Regions from separate parts of the Homo sapiens genome. Here region 2 is linked to region 1. Evidence: fine-mapped expression QTL. Tissue or cell type: fibroblasts. Region 1 holds a variant in brackets; the other region holds the start of a gene. All regions are shown on one strand. Distances are from middle to middle.

Region 1 (5,149 bases):
GGTCGCGGTGACTCATGCTTGTAATTCCAGTACTTCGGGAGGCAAAGGCAGGTGGATTGCTTGAGTTCAAGAGTTTGAGATCAGACAGGTCTCAGCCAGTGAAACCCTTTCTTTACCAAAAATATAAAAATTAGCTGGGCGTGGTGGCATAAGCCTGTGGTCCCAACTACTTGGGAGGCTGAAGTAGAAAGATTGCTGGAGCCCAGGAAGTCAAGGCTGGAGTGAGCCATGATCACACCACTGCATTCCAGCTTGGACAGAGCAAGACTCTGTCTCAAGGTAAATAAATAAATAAATAAATACATACATAAATAAATAAATAAAATCTCTCTAAACATCATTGTGTGATCAATTTACAATATATTCCTATTGCCATCTTTATCTACTATGCCTCTAAGTCCTCTGAGAGAACGCACTCACTTGCTTGGAACTTTGTGTTATTGTTTGTACTTCGAATCAGCTGAAATGCCTTTTGGAATCCCACTGCGTGCTGGGTAGGACTGTCTGAAGACTTCACGCTGCTAACAAAGGTGGACATTTTCCTTTTTGTCTCACTGGTGGCTGGAGACAAGAAGGTCTTATAGCACTGGTCTAGTGAGCAAGTCCGGACGGTATCTGCCACAGTTAACACAGAAATCTGCAGGAAAGAAAAAAAAAAAAAACCACCAAACTTGTTATCCTACCGTCTAAAGATTTATTTATTTATGTAACAGAAGAGGCCAAGGAGTAAGAAGGCCTACAGAACAGATTCTGAGAGTTTCAAAATAAATCCCTGGAGCCATCCATCTATCAAATTTGAAAAGGATCCATAAGGATTGGTAAAGTGGGGAAACCCCTAGAGTTTGGTTTTTGTTCCAACATGAAGTGGTAGTATTATGTTCATACATAACATTAAACACACACACAAACTATTTTATGCAGAGAAAAGTCATAGCAAGAATGAACTATCCTGTTTTTCAACCTGGAGGTGAGGGGTGAGGGTAAGAGAGTGAGGTGTGTGTGTTTTAAGCCACTAGGTTAGTGAGCAAAACCTCTGGAGTTGGCAAAGTCAAAATGATGAAGCAGAAAATGTCCACAGGCAATAGATTATCATTAGCTGTACCCACACCTCTCTCTGAGGTGTCCCAGAGATTAGTCAGCCACTAGCGGCTTTCCCTTCTTCCTGACTTCCCAACAATCTTGCAATAAAGTTCAGCCATCCATCAGCATCCAAATCTCCCACCCCTCTCCTCCTCAGCGTAACCTCCAGTGTGAAAGTCATGGCTAATTAGAAACCTTACCATGAGCCATAAAGAAGTATAAGACTAAGCTTGGTGGTAGTTACGAAAGGGATTTTTGGATTTGTGGCTGCTTCCTCAAATATTAGAATAATACTCTTTTCCCAAAGTCTTTTCTTTTCCCAAAGTCCTTTTAAAGATGGATTTAAAAAAATATACAGATGGTCCCTGACATACAATGGTTTGACTTTATGATGGTGAGAAAGCGATAGGCAGGCAGTGAAGCTGTACTTTCAATTTTGGATCTTTTCCCAGGCTCCTGATACTTTCTCATGGTGCTGGACAATGGCAGCGAGCCGCAGCTCCCAGTCAGCCATGCAATCATAAAGGAGAACCGCTGATATAGTATTCTGCAGTGTACTGTATTCAATAAATTCTACGAGATAGCCAACACTTTATTATGTTATAAAATAGGCTTTGTGTTAGATGATTTTCCATAACTGAGGGCTAACCTAGGTGTTCCGACTGTTTAAGGTAGGCTAGCCCAAGCTGTGATGTAGCTCAGGTGTATTAAATGCATTTTCAACTTATGATGGATTTATCAGGATGTAACCCCATTGTAAGTCAAGGAGGATCTGTATATCACAAAACAATAAAGTACTTTAAAAAAGGCATTCAAGGAGAACCTGATGCCATAGGGGTCACAAGGGTCATGGTCACCTTGTCATGTTCATCGATGGCGCTGAGGATGACCTGAGCAGCGTCCTTGGCAATCTGAAGCTGAGTGTCTGTGACTGAAGCCCCGTGGTCCAGAATCACTACTATGTGCTTTGACTG[C/T]GGCCGGACTGTAGAGACGTAGATGGGTCTGGAGGGAGAAGAAGCTCTCTGGGGTCAGTCTTGGTTTAGGTAAAGGGCCTCAACTTAACACAGCTGTGAACACTACAGTGCATGGGCATGTTGGTCTCTGTGTTCTCCCAGGGATGGCACAAGGATGGAGAAATCCACATGGAAGGAGAAACCATATTGGTGCATTGAAAATAATACTTAAGACAACAAGGTGTGTCTGTAGAACAGGGATGGGTAATTTATGCCTTTAAAGATCAAAGCAGACAAGAGAAGTTTTTCAGGAGCAAACCCTTTCAGAGGTTGGCTTTTTCAGCATCACTAACATCCTGCTTTTCTCTCTTTTTTTTTTTTTTTTTTTTTTCAGAAAAAAGCAGGATGTTAGTGTTCTTTAACCCAATGCTTTCTGCACAGCTTAAAACTTCTAGTAGTTAAAATCCTCATATAAAATATGCACAACCTCTGCTTGGTATTGCCCAGTGTACCTGTTTTGCTAAAGGATGTGGATGTAGTGGTCCCTTGGGCTGAGAGACCAGCCAAGGAGAAAAAGGTCCCATCACCAGGGTTGGATTCTCCTCTGCAGACTTGCAGAGTGGGGCTTGGTTAGAAGTGAGGCAGCCTATAACCCGTGAGCATGCTGAGCAGCTTTGAATGGCAGGTTTGGTTTCTCTCTTCTCATACAAAGGCTCCTGCTAAGAGGCCCCTTTCCTTTCTGGACTGAAACAATTCACATAGGTCAGCCACCAAAAGGCCCCTTATCTGAGCATTTAAAACTGTGCCATCAAAATTTGTCCAAGTCTGTGATAGCCACTCTTCTTGCCAGGTTTTTGTTTGCCAACATTGAAAAAAAGGGGGTTGGGGGCAGCCACAAAGGAGAAATGCCTCCCATCAAAGCAGCCTTTTGCTAATGTGCAGTGCAGGAAGGTTTGTGAGAAGAGGTTTAATGAGGTCTCTATTCACAGTTTTAAAGCTGGAACAAATTAGAAGGAGTTTAAGAAAGCAAATCAGCCTCAAGAGAATTCTCTCCTTTACTGACATCCTTAAAACACTAGATTTTCCTGTGAAATGTTAGATGCCAGCTGAATCACAAAAGCCTGGGCACAAATTAAGAAACGCAGGCAAAGTACCAAAAAAACTCAAAATCTGGCCAAATTTACACTAGTTGTTCTCAAGCCCAAAGTCCTGCAGTAATTACTAAAGTACCACTATATTTTCATGAGTCGATACCATTGAGCCACTAGGGAAATGCAATAAAAAGAATCCAGGAGAGGTGGCTACAGAAATGAAACAGAGTACAGAAAAGAAGGAAAATTTGATCATCTCAACACTGACAAGTAGGTCAAATATTTAACTTTTTAGATTCTCCAAGCTAGATGGGTGGATTTTCTTTAAAATGACACACTTCCTTTGTTAAAATTCAATTCACATAAATGAAACTTGGGATATGTGTTGGCATTGTCACATTAAGTTGTTAAACGCTGCTTTAGTGGGATATATAAATAGTGATGTTAAATGTACAAACTGGGGGGCAGTCCTCATAGAATGACTGGTATCTACCACTTCCTTTCTTGTGTTGCTATGTCCTGAAATCCATTCCATACTTCCAAAGAATGTAGAGAACTTGGAAAGGCATCATAGGAAAGCAGTTAGGACAAGAAATGTGAATCGCAGTCTATCAGAGAGAAATGTGGATCATTTAGCCAAGGGAAAAGAGGTTCAAGGGCTAATTAGTGCAGATTTAGGGTGGAGATACATGAAAACTTTCCGAATTGCCTTGTGTAGGTGAATGCTGATTTTGACAAGGTTTCACTTTCCTTTTTAAACTTTTCTTCACAGGTGCTTCGTTAAAATCAGCATGCCATCTAGCCCATCTCTTCTTAGAAGCAAATGAGAATTAGATGGTTCATGGTGGCCTTTGTTCTCGTGAGAAGCCATGATCATGGCTTCTGGTCCAGTCTCCAAGACACCCAAGTCTTCACCAGAATGTGTGGGGAGGGAAAGGAAGAAACCACACACACAATAAAAATATCTTAGGACGACTGGGCACGGTGGCTCATGCCTGTAATCCCAGCACTTTGGGAGGCCTGAGGTCAGGAGTTCGAGACTAGCCTGGCCAACATGGCAAAACTTCGTCTCTACTAAAAATACAAAAATTAGCCAGGCATGGTGGTGGGTGCCTGTAATCCCAGGTACTCGGCAGGCTGAGGCAGGAGAATCGCTTGAACCCGGGAGGCAGAGTTTGCAGAGCTGAGATCGTGCCATTGCACTCCAGCCTGGGCAACAAGAGCAAAACTCCATCTCAGGAAAAAAAAAAAAAAAATCTTAGGAAAAGCACAGATGAAGTATTTTCCTTGGGGAAAAATTCTAGATAAAATTTAAAGTGAAGATGAAGGGAAGCTAAAGTAATTGTGTAGACTCCAGAAAATGGTGTGAAAAGTGGGTGCCCTGCACTAGAGCTCCAGATGTTTTGGCATCAAACATCTAACACTGCAAACAGGAAACTGTCAGGATTAAATAGGAAAGTATATTTGCTTCGGGGGGGTTCTATAATTAATGAGTCTTGTCATACAAAGTATCTCACCATTATTGCCCTTCTGGCTACATGGTAGAATCTCAAGTCATGTCTGTGAGAGAAAAGCAGGATGTTAGTAATTTTTAATCCAATGCTTTCTGCTCACCTCAAAACTTCTAATAGTTAAAATCTGCATGTAAATTTCATGCAGTATGGCCAAGCATGTCATCATAGAAAGGGAAGTTGAGTATAACAAACTACTCTGAGATATGTTATAAAGTTATGTTCAAGGGCTGCACTATAGATAAGGTACCATCATTTACATTTCAACAAAGAATTCTGAAACTCAAAACACTCTAGGTGCTTCACACAATTTGACTTCACGAGTAAGTACCTTTTTATATTTGGCATATTAGATAGCTATAGGAAAGCTCTGGGTTTTGTAATTTGCCCTTGCCTGGAATTTCACATCCACATATACTAAATGGTGAATTCATTTCAGAACAAGTACAAATTTCTGAATCCACAGCTTAAAGGCATAGCCATGAGTAGAAATGAGAAGTTTTATATTTCATGT
Region 2 (5,149 bases), 160 kb after region 1:
CAAGAAAACCCAACTCCATTGCACTTCAGGGCTGGGTGTCTGCAAATAAATGCAAAATTACCTTTCAAAATCCATCCACTCCTCAGTCCTCATGTCACCCTTTAAAAAATTCCGGTGGTCTTTCCCCACAGTAGAGAAGGTCTGTGGAACTTTCCTCAAGAAAATTGTAACCTCTTGGGAGGAGATTGGTGTGGGGAAGTGGAAAGAAGAGGAAGGAAGAAGGAAAAAGAAAAGAAAGAGGAGGAGAAGAACGAGAAGGAGGAGGAGGAGGAAGAAGAAGGAAGAAAGAAGAGAAGGAGAAGACGAGGAGGACGACGCGACGAAGAAGAAAGAAGTAAGAAACCTAAATCCCAAAAGTGACTTAAACACCTCTCCCGGTGGGAGGTGGAAGGAGTGGTCACAGTAGGATGGAAATCAGAAACCTATTCCAAGAACGCATTCTTGGAAACTTCAATCTTTCGAAGACCACATTCATCCCCATGATTGTTAGAATGTGTAAGAGAATGGTGTTATTTTATCTAAGAATGTTATAGCAAAGGTTTCAAGCTGGGAATGTCATCTCAACCTCTCCTAATCTAGTGGGCCTTTATGGCCAAGTGGATTAAAATAACAGCGGGGCAGAATCTCCAGGTGGTTGGTGTTCAGCAATTTTTACTACTGTTGGTCGTGAGTAACATCATCAGGATTCCTTACTAGCTGCGGGCAGTTTTTCTGTCAGCCCTCCTTCCTCTCCCGAGGAGGACGGACATGATAAACAATCTGGAGAAATGGGAACCTTATTCACTTTGCTCCCTTTTTCTTCGACCCAAAAAGGCACACACGAAACAAAAATCATACAGCAGACAGCACGCAAACTACAGCAGGATATGCGGAAAGCAACAAAAAGAGTCCCCCAGCAGGATTAGAGTCGGGAGTCTACCCAGAATCTACCAGGCCAGCCCCTCCCCCCATGCTCCCGGGAGGGGAAAGGAGCGCGGAGCCCACTCGGAGGGCCGCTCTCCGCCGGGACCTAGGTGTCCCCGGGGCAGCTGCGTACTCTGCGGCGCCTTCCCTCCCGGCGCCCATTGGTGCGCCTCGGTAGGGAGGACGCGAGGACGCGAGGACGCGGTCAAGGGGGTGGGGTGGGGACTTCGGAAAATCGTCCGAGCCAGACGGGGCTGGCTGCTCTGGGATGGGGACACAAAGGGGGAGTTTGCAGGCGTGGCAGGGTGAAAACAAGCCTACATGGGAAATGTGTGCAAATTAGAGAAGACGTGCGAGGAAACTGGAGAATCCTTGACGAGATGAAGGCGCTGGTACTCAGAAGAGGGGGGCTGTGCAGGGTCAAGTGGGTTCCGTGCAGAGGGCAGGGGATTCTCCAGAGAAGGGCAGGGGTAGACGAATGCATGGAAGAAGAGTTGGTGTATTGTCAGGGGGTCTGTGCAGAGGACAGAGGGGTCCGACGGGAAGCCGGGCTCTATGTATGCAAGGAGCCGATGCACACAGTCCAGGGGACTTGTACCGGGAGTGGGATGGGAGTTTGAGCAAAGGAGAAAGGCGGGATGTCTGGCCAGCTCGGGGGCCACTTACCTGCATGGTGACGACCCCCAGCTCCTCGGCCGCCAGCCTCCGCATCTGGCTCGCCAGCACTTGCGCCTCGTCCAGGATGGAGAAGTCGGCTTCGGCCCCGGCGCCCAGGAGCCAGCACGCGACCAGGCAGAGCAGCCAGAGGGGCGGCCGCCGCGCCCGGGCCACGGCCGTCTCCTCTTCCTCCGGCTGGCGGGCCATGCTGCCTCCCCCCACTCCCCGCCGACGGGCTCCGGGCGCGGGGAAGCGGGCCGCGGGAGGTGCCCCCCGCAAAAGCGCGGCGCACCCCGCAAAAGTTTCTTCCTCTGTTGCAGGCTCTGCTCCGCGCCGCGGTGGCGAAGGCTCCCAAACTTAGGGGGCGCCCGGCTACAGCGCGGGAGCGCGGGCGGCCACCATCGCGGGGCTCCGCGGCGGTGGGGGTAGGAGGCGGCCGCCCGAGCGGTCCCCGGAGCCCGGCGCCCACACGGGCCCCGCGGCGCAGAGGGCGTCTCCGAGAGCAGGGGCGCCCGCAGGCCGGGGTGCGCGGGCCCCGGGGCTGACAGTCGGAATCGGAGTCGGAGTCGGAGCCCGAGCCGAGCCGCGCGGCTCTCGCTTCCTGCGAGTCCCAGCGCAGCGAGCAGGCGGCGGCGAGGACTGACGGCGGCCCCCGGGGAAGAGGAGCGGCGGCCGGGCTGCGAGACTGGGGCAGCCACCCGAGCGAGGAGGGAAAGGGGAGGCTTCACAAACCCACACAACTGAAAGAAAGAAAGCAAGCGGTGGGGAAAGGGAGGCGTCTGGTGCCACCACGCTGCGCTCCGGCTCTGTGCACTTCCCGGCTGGGCCGCCGCGGCGGCTGCGGTGATTTATGGAACCAGCAAGAGAGGCGGGGAAATTCCCCCGGTTGCCCCTCCTCTCTCTCCCTGGCTCCCGCCTCAGAACCTGCCCCCCGGGACGCCGGGGGCCGGGGGACCAGCCTCTCTCTCTGCTCGGGGACCGGCCCAGCCCGGGCAGGGGAGCCCACGGACCTTCCCGTGGCTGGAGACGGAGACCCCCGCCAGCGCTCCCCGCCTCCGTCCGCGCCAGGGAGCCCACCCGGCCCAGGTTCCAGCCATCGAAAAGTCCTTTAAGTTCTAGGACGCTGGCTGTCTGCCTGGCAGCGGTTGGGGAAGAAGGGGACTGCCATGTGTAGGTCCACTCCCTCTCCTTGATGTTATTCATCACAATGGCTAGCTAGCGTTCCACCCACAGATTTCTGTTGCAACCAGCCACCGTGTGCCCGGCACTGGGCTCGGGGGTGTGCACATTATCCTTTAATCTCCGCGACATGCCATAGGAGGTACGTATCTTTATCCCAATTTTTTAGGTAACAAAGACTGAGGCTTAGAGAGGTGGAATAAATTGCCAGAGGTCACCCAGGGGATAAGAAACAAATCCAGAGTTTAAGCACAAGTCTTACTCCAAGGCTATTGCTCCTAAATACGATACAGTTCTCTCTGTCTCTCTTTGGAAATGAACCATCTGATCCCATCAAAAGCAAGAAAAAAGAAAAAGAACGACTGAACCGGAGTCCACCGCGCACACACCTGTTCTCCCAAGCATGGAGAGGCAAGGTTAACCTTCCTGTTTGTCCCTGACTACTGGCTCAGGCTCGCTGAGAAATCACCTGTTGGAAGCACCTGGAACAAGTCAACCTGCTGTGTGTGGAGAACAGCCACTCTCCCTTCCAAGCCCTGTGTGGTTGCTGCTTGCAGGTTCCTGGAGAACAGAGCCAACACTGGAAGGTTAAAGGACTAGTCCAGGGTTACCTAGCAGAGGTGGTAGCAGGATTAGAACCTGGATTTAGGACTCTTTTCATTTTACAGCAAAACCTTCTGTTTTACATCTTTGACTATATTGTATTAAAAAGTCATCTTCTCTTGTAAGCTCTCCCTGGCCCATTTTTACCTCATTGAGATCACTTCTCCATTCTCAACTCCCCTGCTAATTTTTGTATTTTTAGTAGAGACAGGGTTTCGCCATGTTGGCCAGGCTGGTTTCAAACTCCTGACCTCAGGTGATCCACCTGCCTCGGCCTCCCAAAGTGCTGAGATTACAGGCATGAGCCACTGCGCCTAGCCTGTGATGTTTGTTTTACATACTAAGGCAAGCATGTTGAGTGTGGGGACCAATCCCTTCACCTCCACATCATCCACACAAGCACATAGTAGTACTGGAAAAATGATTCTTGAGTTAATAATGAGGTAAAAACCTACCTGTATGTCTTCTATTCCTGGAGTTGAGCTGACATTTGTTAGAAAGATGATCCTTTAACTTCCGTTTTTTAAATTGTTGTACCTTTGACATGACACTCCGCAAGAGAAAGCATATTAGTCCATGTGATTAGTGGAAGAGTAAAGAACAAAAATAATAATGACATATAGCATTATTTTTTTATTTGATTCTTCAAGGTTACCATCACCAAGGTGTCACACATCTCTAAACTCCTTCTGAAATGCCTTCACAATAGGCATTTATTGCCCATCTTTTATATGTTGGTATTTCTTGAGGTCCTATTTCTTGGGATGCTAATCCAATGTCACCTTTTTTTCACTCTAAGGTTCTTCTTTTTGAGGACTCTCGACCACATCTATGCCTTCAATTATTACCAAACACGAGTTTATCATACTTCTAAATAAAGCTCAACCTGGATCTCCATTTTTTCTAGCAAGTTCCTGACTTCTCTAGTAGATATACCTGAATGAAAACTCATTACTGCTTTCCCCCATGTTCCACCTAAATCCATGTCTGGCTGCAAATCTAGGTGGATGTCACCCACTCTGCAAGCTAGGTACGCACTCTCCATCCACCCCAGCTCCCAACATATCTCCCGTGTCCATCCCCCGCTGTCCATCTGCATCCTATGGCCTGACTTCAGTTCCTCATTGCAGCTTGCCTGTATTATGACCAGTCTCCTCATGGGTCTCTGTGCAGTCTCTCTGTTCCCCCTCATTCTGTTCTTCACATGGAAGTCAAAATCAACTTTCTAAAAGTCAAATCTCAACTTGTCATTCACTAATCTAAACATTTCTGATGCCCCATCACAGATAAGTAAACTTAACAAACAAGGCCCTTTGTGCTCTGACCCTGTTTGCTCTTCTGGCCTTTTTGTAGCCACTGTGCCCCTCAGTTGCCTCACCACTCCCAGAAAACACCTATATGGCAGCCTCAAAATTCTTCCCCTTCTCTCCACTTGCTAGGTCCCCTATTCAGCTGAGGTGTCATTTCTGTGACACCTACCCCCACAGAGTTTACGGCTCCTCTTTGGTGCTCCAAAGCTCTTGGTTCTTCTCTCAGCACTTAATGTCCCCTCAGCGCTTAACAAGCAACATTGTGATTTTCCACTTGAAAGCTTTGATTTCTCCACCTTGTTTCTCAAAGTGTGATCCACCAAACACACTAGCCTCAGGACACTTAATAAACTGCAAATCCTGTGCTCTATTCCAGGTCTACTAAAGCAGAATCTTTGGAGGTGGGGGGTGGGTCCTGGAATATGCATTTTATAGACCCCCCTTCCCCGCCCTGACATTAGTCTTATGAACTAATGCTAGACTGCAAGCAAGCTTGC

Evidence for each region. PIP is the estimated chance that this variant, and not a neighbour inherited with it, causes the effect.
Region 2: CACHD1 starts here. The variant in region 1 is fine-mapped to the expression of CACHD1 in fibroblasts (GTEx, PIP 0.99). The same link has a PIP of 0.9 or more in lung.

What each region holds. Positions count from the first base shown.
Region 1 is chr1:64,629,532-64,634,680 of GRCh38, reverse strand. It overlaps CACHD1 (cache domain containing 1), which reads right to left. Exons shown (of 27, transcript NM_020925.4): 6 at 1,938-2,082; 7 at 421-637. Among named protein-coding and RNA genes, the nearest start is that of MIR4794, 52 kb to the right of the region's middle. The variant C/T (reference allele first, on the strand shown) is at 2,055.
Region 2 is chr1:64,467,363-64,472,511 of GRCh38, reverse strand. It overlaps CACHD1 (cache domain containing 1), which reads right to left and starts at 2,383. Exons shown (of 27, transcript NM_020925.4): 1 at 1,570-2,383. The coding sequence starts at 1,767. LOC107984966 (a long non-coding RNA gene) reads left to right here and starts at 2,487. Exons shown (of 2, transcript XR_001738100.2): 1 at 2,487-3,326; 2 at 4,142-4,239. RefSeq lists an enhancer at 1-254 and a silencer at 2,054-2,173.